Homo sapiens: one gene and its partner. The protein of the gene in region 1 interacts with the protein of each later gene in a pairwise test. Each region holds a gene or a part of one and is shown on either strand. Other genes may lie near its edges. The genes, in order: SLC12A6 and DYSF.

What was found.
Region 2: the proteins of SLC12A6 (region 1) and DYSF interact in a two-hybrid assay, tested with the Homo sapiens proteins (one large-scale study listed by BioGRID and IntAct).

What each region holds. Positions count from the first base shown.
Region 1 is NC_000015.10:34,331,282-34,335,095, reverse strand, and holds part of SLC12A6 (solute carrier family 12 member 6), read left to right. Parts: intron 1-3,814.
Region 2 is NC_000002.12:71,683,184-71,686,997, forward strand, and holds the end of DYSF (dysferlin), read left to right. Parts: intron 1-3,270; coding exon 3,271-3,309; 3' UTR 3,310-3,580; downstream 3,581-3,814. UniProt on the Homo sapiens protein: Key calcium ion sensor involved in the Ca(2+)-triggered synaptic vesicle-plasma membrane fusion.

The DNA of each region.
Region 1 (3,814 bases):
TGTGGTTTTAGTTTTTATCCATCATGCTGTATTTAGGTTGTAAAAATTCCAGGTAAAGACTATACCAGTGTTAATTTCTTAATATTGTAATTATCATTAGGTAATTTATAGTTTAGTTTGTTAGACTTGTGACTTACATGTTACAGAATTGTATTTTTATTCTTTGGAAAAGTGGACTTAGTAATGTGTTAGACCAGCAGAACAGGTTCCTTGTCCAGTCTGCGGTTCTTACGTTACCCTTAAGCATTCTTTACAGTCTAAAGTGGTATCCTTTTACACTATAGGGGTAAAAATGGGACTACAGGGGTAAAAATGGGGACATATCTAAGTGAAATTTATGTTTGTTTACGTGGTTACAGATGTTAAAAGCTTGGTTCTCTATATAACACATTCCTTACTTAATGTTTAAATATTCTCCGGTACCCAGATGAAAGGGAAATTAATAGTCTGGCCATTAGAGAGGACTTTGCCCTATTCTCGTGGAACTTTATACTTTCTCAGTGACCTACCTTTTCTCTTTTTTTTTCTTTCTATATTTAAAAAAATTCTTATGATGACTGTCATCATGTGATAAATTTTCCCCACCATTAGAAGAAACCACTTAGAAACACAATTATTTCACCCTTGACTTCTCAGTATGTGAAAGCCCTTGTTAGATTTAGATGTAGATCTTCAAAGGGTGCTGTTGTGAAGAAAAGGGCCTAATGTTAATATACACTTCCCTCTAGGCTGGCTTTAATATAGATAACAACTGCATCCTTTCTACAGTTGACTCTCCTTAAGCTCATAGTGCATTTCACAGTTAGTTTGCTATTTTAGTATTTACAGTTCTCTGAATTTTTTCACCCTTTGTACATCCTTCTGTGGTTGTGACATTAGTATGATTCTCCTTTCCCCCATGCCTCCCACGTTTCTTCCTGTAGAGAAACTTCCCACCCGAAGTTTCTTGTCATATGTCTTCTACTCACATTACATCACACAAACAGGAGGTGACACATGAAGTTTTTTTTGTTTTTTTTTTTTTTGAGATGGAGTTTCACACTTGTTGCCCAGGCTGGGGTACAAGGGCGCAATCTCCACTCACTGCAATCTCTGTCTCCCGGGTTCCAGTGATTCTTTTGCCTCAGCCTCCCAAGTAGCTGAGATTACAGGCATGCACCACCACACCTGGCTAATTTTTTGTATTTAGTAGAGATGGGGTTTCATCATGTTAGTCAACCTGGTCTCAAACTCCTGACCTCAGGAGATACACCCACCTTGGCCTCCCAAAGTGCTGGGATTACAGGCGTGAGCCACAGCGCCCAGCCCTACATGAAGTTTTAAATACTTATTTCAGTATATTTTAATTTTTTCTGCTGTTGGCTTTCTGAGTAGTTTTCTTTCTGCTATCAAAGTAATTTTTCTTTCATTTTGGCAAGGCTCCATTTGAATTTATAGGACTGTCCAGTTGGTAAAATCAAGAATCTTAGCAGTGTATTAGCTTATGTATGAAGAACGCCTTAAAGATACAAAAGAAACTGTTGAGAGTGGATGCCTCTGGAAAGTGAGTTACAAAAATAGAGTGGAGCCAGGCACGGTGGCTCACGCCTGTAATCCTAGCACTTTGGGAGGCCGAGGCGGGTGGATTCCCTGAGCTCAGGAGTCCGAGACCAGCCTGGGGAACACGGTGAAACCCTGTCTCTACTAAAAATACAAAAAATTAGCCAGGCGTGACGGCGTGCGCCTGTAATCCCAGCTGCTCGGGAGGCCTTGACAGGAGAATTGCTTGAATCCAGGAGGCGGAGGTTGCAGTGAGCTGAGATCACGCCGCTGCACTCCAGCCTGGGTGACAGAGCGAGACTCTGTCTCAAAAAAAAAAAAAAAGAAAAAGAAAAAAAAATAGAGTGGAATTTTCTTTTACCAAAACAATTAAGGGCATATACAACTTTTAAGTATTTATAGTGTATCACTTTTATAGTAATTTTTTTGAAAAGCACCACATGTTAGAGCTAATGATCTAGAATCTTATTCTGATCAAACCACATTTTAATAAGTGAGGAGACTTAAAACCCCAATAGATTAGACTAAAAAAATAACAAAATAAATGAGGAAACTAAGGCTTATAGAGATGGTTATTTGTAGATCACAAAGTGGCAAAGCCAAGACTGAAGTTCAGGCCTCCTGACTTTTATCTAGTGCTCTTTCTTGCATCATTTTGCCTCTGCTATGATGAACATTTTTTACATGTGCTTTATAACCATGTGGCTATAAAACATATTTTTATATGTCATTTGCAGGACCTAATACTTTTTTTCTTTTTCTTTTTTTTTTTTTGAGGCAAAGTCTCGCGCTGTCGCCCAGGCTGGAGTGCAGTGGCGCTATCTCGGCTCACTGCAACCTCCACCTCCCTGGTCCAAGTGATTCTCCAGCCTCAGCCTCCCAAGTAGCTGGGATTACAGGCATCTGCAACCACACCCGGCTAAATTTTGTGTTTTAGGAGAGATGGGGTTTCACCATGTTGGCCAGGCTGGTCTCAAACTCCTGACCTCAAATGATCCTCCTGCCTCGGCCTCCTAAAGCTCAGGGATTACAGGTGTGAACCATACACCCTGCCTGCAGTCCCTAATACATTTCAACCTTTTATAAGTCAACAGATACTCCCTGAGACGCTGGTATGTATGAGGCAGTCTGGTATTAATTGTAGGAAATATACAGGTAACATATAGTTTCTACCTTTGCAGATCTCATGGTATAATGGTGAAAATGACTAGAGCACTTTACTTATTCCTTCACCAAATATTTGTTACTCTGAGCAATGAGTTAAGGATAAGGCACTGGCTGGCTGTTAAAGATGTTGGGTGTTAAAGACAGAGAAAAAGCATCCGTTAATCTGTTCTAAGGAAAGTTATGATCTAATAGACAAAGCAAACACATTTGTATATAAATTATAATGCTGTATAAGTCCAACAATAGAAATATGCAAAAATACGGCAAAGGAAAATGATCAACTAAGATAAAATAGAGACACTTAAGAGACTGGAGGACTTGATAAGGTAAAGTGTGGTGAAAAGTGTAGAAAGATTAAAGACTGTGGTCAGACGGTTGAATGTTGTTGGAGTGAGCAATTTCAGAGGTAGAGCATTTCTCATGTAATGTGATCTAGTGTGTAGCCTTGGAGTGGGTTTCTGAAGTGGAGAGTTGAGGTCTAAGTGTAACAACTTTGAGACTGGCTGTTAACCAAGTTTTTGTGAGAGATGTTAGAGACATAAAAGTAATTTAGATAAGTCCTTTCTTTAAGGAGTCATGTCCTCTCTGAAACCTTTTCTGATTGAACCCCATATCCAGATATAATAAACCAGGCTCTTTTTGTCCCTATATTGCTATAATACCTATATCACTATATTTTGTTTTTATTTACATATTATCTTTCTCAACTATGCTGTAGGGTTCTTGAGGACAAGGATACAAAATCATTTACACCTAGTGTAATATGTGATATCACATATAACTTGTACACCATAAATATACATTGAGTTGAAGATCTTGTAGACTTAAAAACAAGAGACAAATTAAAAACGTACTCTGATAAAGGCATATTAATGTATGTACGAGAGTAGTGCTACTTCATCTGGCTGCATAATGAATGATCTAGAGAGCTTTTCAAAAAATGCCTCTAGGCTGGGCGCGGTGGCTCACGCCTGTAATCTCAGCACTTTGGGAGGCCAAGGCGGGCGGATCACTTGAGGCCAGGCGTTCGAGACCAGCCTGGCCAACATGGTGAAACCCCGTCTCTACTAAAAATATGAAAACTTAGCCAGGTGTTGCGGTGCATGCT
Region 2 (3,814 bases), on another chromosome or scaffold:
CTGCAGCAGGTGGGCATAGGGAAGCTGTCGGGGAGCGGGAGGCTGGCCCAGGAGCCCTTACTTGGCTCGGTGCCCATTTGGGTTTCCTTTCACTTGGTAAGAAGCCAATTGATGAGCTTGTGGGGCCATACCAGAGGTGGCTGTCGTGCCCTTGCTCTGTGGGGCCCTGCCTGGGGGAGGAAGGTCCCTGCCTGTGCTTCCCCAGCCCGCACAGCTCATCAGGGAACCCGGATCACCAGGGAGCCTCCCCCAGTGTCTCTGATACTTTAGACCTTGAAGGGGTTGCAGCATTCTCAGGCTGACACCTGATTTCTAATGCTCTTTAAAATTTAAAAGAAATCTTTTTAATATGAAAACTCCAACCCTATATAAAAGTGGAGAGAATGGTGTAATCCACCCCTTGAGGACCTTATGTTGGTGGCAAAGACGCAAACACCCAGAGAAGGAAAGGGCCTGGCCGTAGGCTGCACAGTATTCCATGCACACTCCCAATCCAGGGCTCACTGTGATTCCCACTTCAGGCCTCAGTCCTGGTCAGCACCAGGCCACTGGCCCAGAGCATTGATCCCATGGCAGACAGGCTGCTTGGGGAACTGCCCCCAGGTGAGCTCTTTGCTCTGTGAGTCCTCCAGGAGGAGGAAAGGGCAAGAGCCCCTCCATCCCACTGCAGCTGGCTATGCCCATGTCTGCAGAATGCATCTCAGAGAGGAAGAGAGTTATAACCACACAGCTTTCCATGCAGTTCTAACAGCTGAACTGAGAGGAGCTGGGGAAAGGATGTCTGGTTTGGATGTCCGGACCAGCTACCATCTGGGCCATAGTGACTAAGGAGAGTCTAGAACCAGGGTGGTGAAGGGTCTGCCTACAGGCCAGGCCTGCTAAGCTGGCTGTGGTCACCTGAGGCGCAATGGAGAAATGTTTCTGAGGTTCTGAGGTTTGTCCATCAGCAAAATCTGACTGTGGTCCAGGGTAGATCTAGGTTGCAGGGACTCGAGGTGTGTACGATGTGGGAGGCCTCTTTAAGCCAAGGGAGACGAGATTACAAATATAAGCTGAGATACAGGACTGTGGAAGAGTGTGTGCACGTGTGGTGTCCTGCAGCATGAGCTGTTGCTGTGACCTGAGATCCGGGGTCAGGCCCCAGGACTTCTGCCTGGTGTCTCCTGCCCAGGGGGCACCCTTCCCAGCCTGCCTCAAGCTCCTCCTCCCATTCGGAGCCCAGCTGGCCAGTGTTCAGTTAGCCACAGAGACTCTAAGCACGTGTGTGCGTCTGGGAGGTAAGGGCGTGTTTTGGGGATGAGGGAGAAGAGGATGAGGCCTCATGCCACTGGGGAGTGCTCACTTCCCTGGGGAGACATTGAAACCAGAGAGTAAGGAAAAGTACTGTGGATGATCAAATGCTCTTTTGGGAGGCTCAGGCCGTGGGAGTTTAGGAAGAGAAGAGCTGCTGCAGACCCTCGCCCTTGGTGTAGTCGGAGGACTAGCAGCAGTAGCACCAGGGAACTCACTAGAAACTCAGAGTCCCCGGCCGGCCCCGGCCTGCTGAGGGGGAATCTGCATGTAGGCACATGATGGTTGGAGAAACCCTGTTGGATGTGACAGAGCTCTGTCGCTGGAGTCAGGATTATGGACTCTTCCTGTGACCTTGGCAAATCCCTCCTGCTCACATGAGGAAGGGGCTGCACTAGGTTAGCTCTGGCCTTCTGTGGCTGGGACTGTGCTTAGGGGAGCACTGTCATCTTCCCTGGCTGCTGTATATTAAGCCAAGCCTCCTTCTGAAAAGCCAAGGGGAGGGGAAAGGCAGGTCCAAAGTGGCATCACCACCACCCATGACATGCCTAAGCCCAGCCCCTGCCAGCTGCACCCTGCACTGCTAGGCTACTGGGCAGCAGATCTAGGCCTCCAGGGGCCTGGGGAAGGAGGCCCTGCTGCCTGGCTGGGAGAGGAAGGAAAGATTTCCAGTCACTTCCAGCCTGTGGTCCTTCCTCATCGCTGTGGGCAGAAGCAGAGTGGTACTGTGGGGGGCCTGGTCAGAGCTCCTCCCTGTCTCCTGTCCCCCCAGCAGCGGGCCACTCTCCTTTGAGTTCTTCTGGAAGTTGTCCTCTTTAAAATATGGACCCTGCTTCCCCTCTCCCAGGGCTGGTGTGGGGATGTCAGATCCTAGGTAAGGGGTCTAGGGATGAAGGGGGTGGCCTGGGCCTGAGGCTGCAGACTGGCTTTGCTCACAGGTCTTTGCTACAAGCTGAGCACATCCTGCCTCCTTCCACCCAAGTCACTCATTCATTTGGCCAGTACCAGATGATGAGGGCCGGGCCCTGGTGACCCTCACCTGGCTTTCAGGCCATGGGACAGAGGCTGCCTGCCCCAAGCCAGGGCCTAGTGGAGAGGGGCCCAAGGACAGGGCAGCTTCCTCCAGTTGGCCTAATCCCCTACCCTCTTGGAAATTCCCTTGGGAGGGGTATGAGGGGGCAGCCTGTCTGATTCCTCTCAGCTTCCCCCTCAGAGCCAGCCGGGAGCAGGGCCAGCGTGGGGAGGCAGGAGGCGTTTGGCGGGGAAGGAGGGCCGGCTCTGTTTCCAGAGTTGGCTTTCCCCAGCCGGCGCTGGGGAACATACTGTCCCAATTAGGAGCCCTGTATTGTGTTGTATGTGTTTTCATGGTTTTTGGGGGGAGAAGTGGGGAGGGGAGGATACTGTCAATCCTGCAGCAGGCAGGGCTCAATCAAGGGTGCCCTGTCTCTAGTGCTGGGCTGTGCCGTGGGTCATCCACGACAGCCCATCCCCAACTCTCTCTCTGCTTTCTGGACAGGGGTGTGATGACCCGTAAGCCCTGGGCTGCCATGTGGGGGAGGACCCTGGGCCCCACCTTCAGCACCTGTCTGATGGAAGAGGCCAGGTCCAGGGTGCTCAGAGTCCTCTGGGCAGTCAGCTGGAACCTGGAAATGGGCCTGGCTTGATGGGGGAGAAGACAGAGCAATTTGGGCAGCTTTGGCCCCCAGGTGGGAGGGTGCGGGTGGAGTTTCGGAGGGTATGGGTTTGCCTGATGGGCTGGAGCACTAGGCAGGGCGGAGTGTTGAGCCCCACATGGTATGGATGGCAAGTGGTGAGGGCGAGGCGTGGGCAGGTGGTTGAAGAGCCACGAGCGTCCTCTCCCAGCCTCTTGCCTGTTGGCAGCTTAGCCCCATCCTCTGAGCCCCAGGTCTGGGACAGCTGCTCTGGCTGTGCCTGCCCCAGTGGGATCACCATGGGTCCCTGTCTCCTCCCTCCCTCCAGAACTATGCTGCCATGAAGCTGGTGAAGCCCTTCAGCTGAGGACTCTCCTGCCCTGTAGAAGGGGCCGTGGGGTCCCCTCCAGCATGGGACTGGCCTGCCTCCTCCGCCCAGCTCGGCGAGCTCCTCCAGACCTCCTAGGCCTGATTGTCCTGCCAGGGTGGGCAGACAGACAGATGGACCGGCCCACACTCCCAGAGTTGCTAACATGGAGCTCTGAGATCACCCCACTTCCATCATTTCCTTCTCCCCCAACCCAACGCTTTTTTGGATCAGCTCAGACATATTTCAGTATAAAACAGTTGGAACCACACAGCAGTGTCAGTGTGTGTATCTCTACAGTACCTGAACAGGGAGTGACTGTGAAGGGGGATATGCCTGGGTGGGCGGGGAGGGTGGACGGGGTATGGGTGCTGCTTCCAGCCCAGCCTTCTGGAGGGAGAGGCAGCTGAGAAGCAGTGGGTGGGGCCCGTGGAACTGCTTCTTCTTTCACAAGACTGGTTGGGGGTGGGGTGGGCTTGGGGCTTGGTGTCTGGTTTGCCTTAGC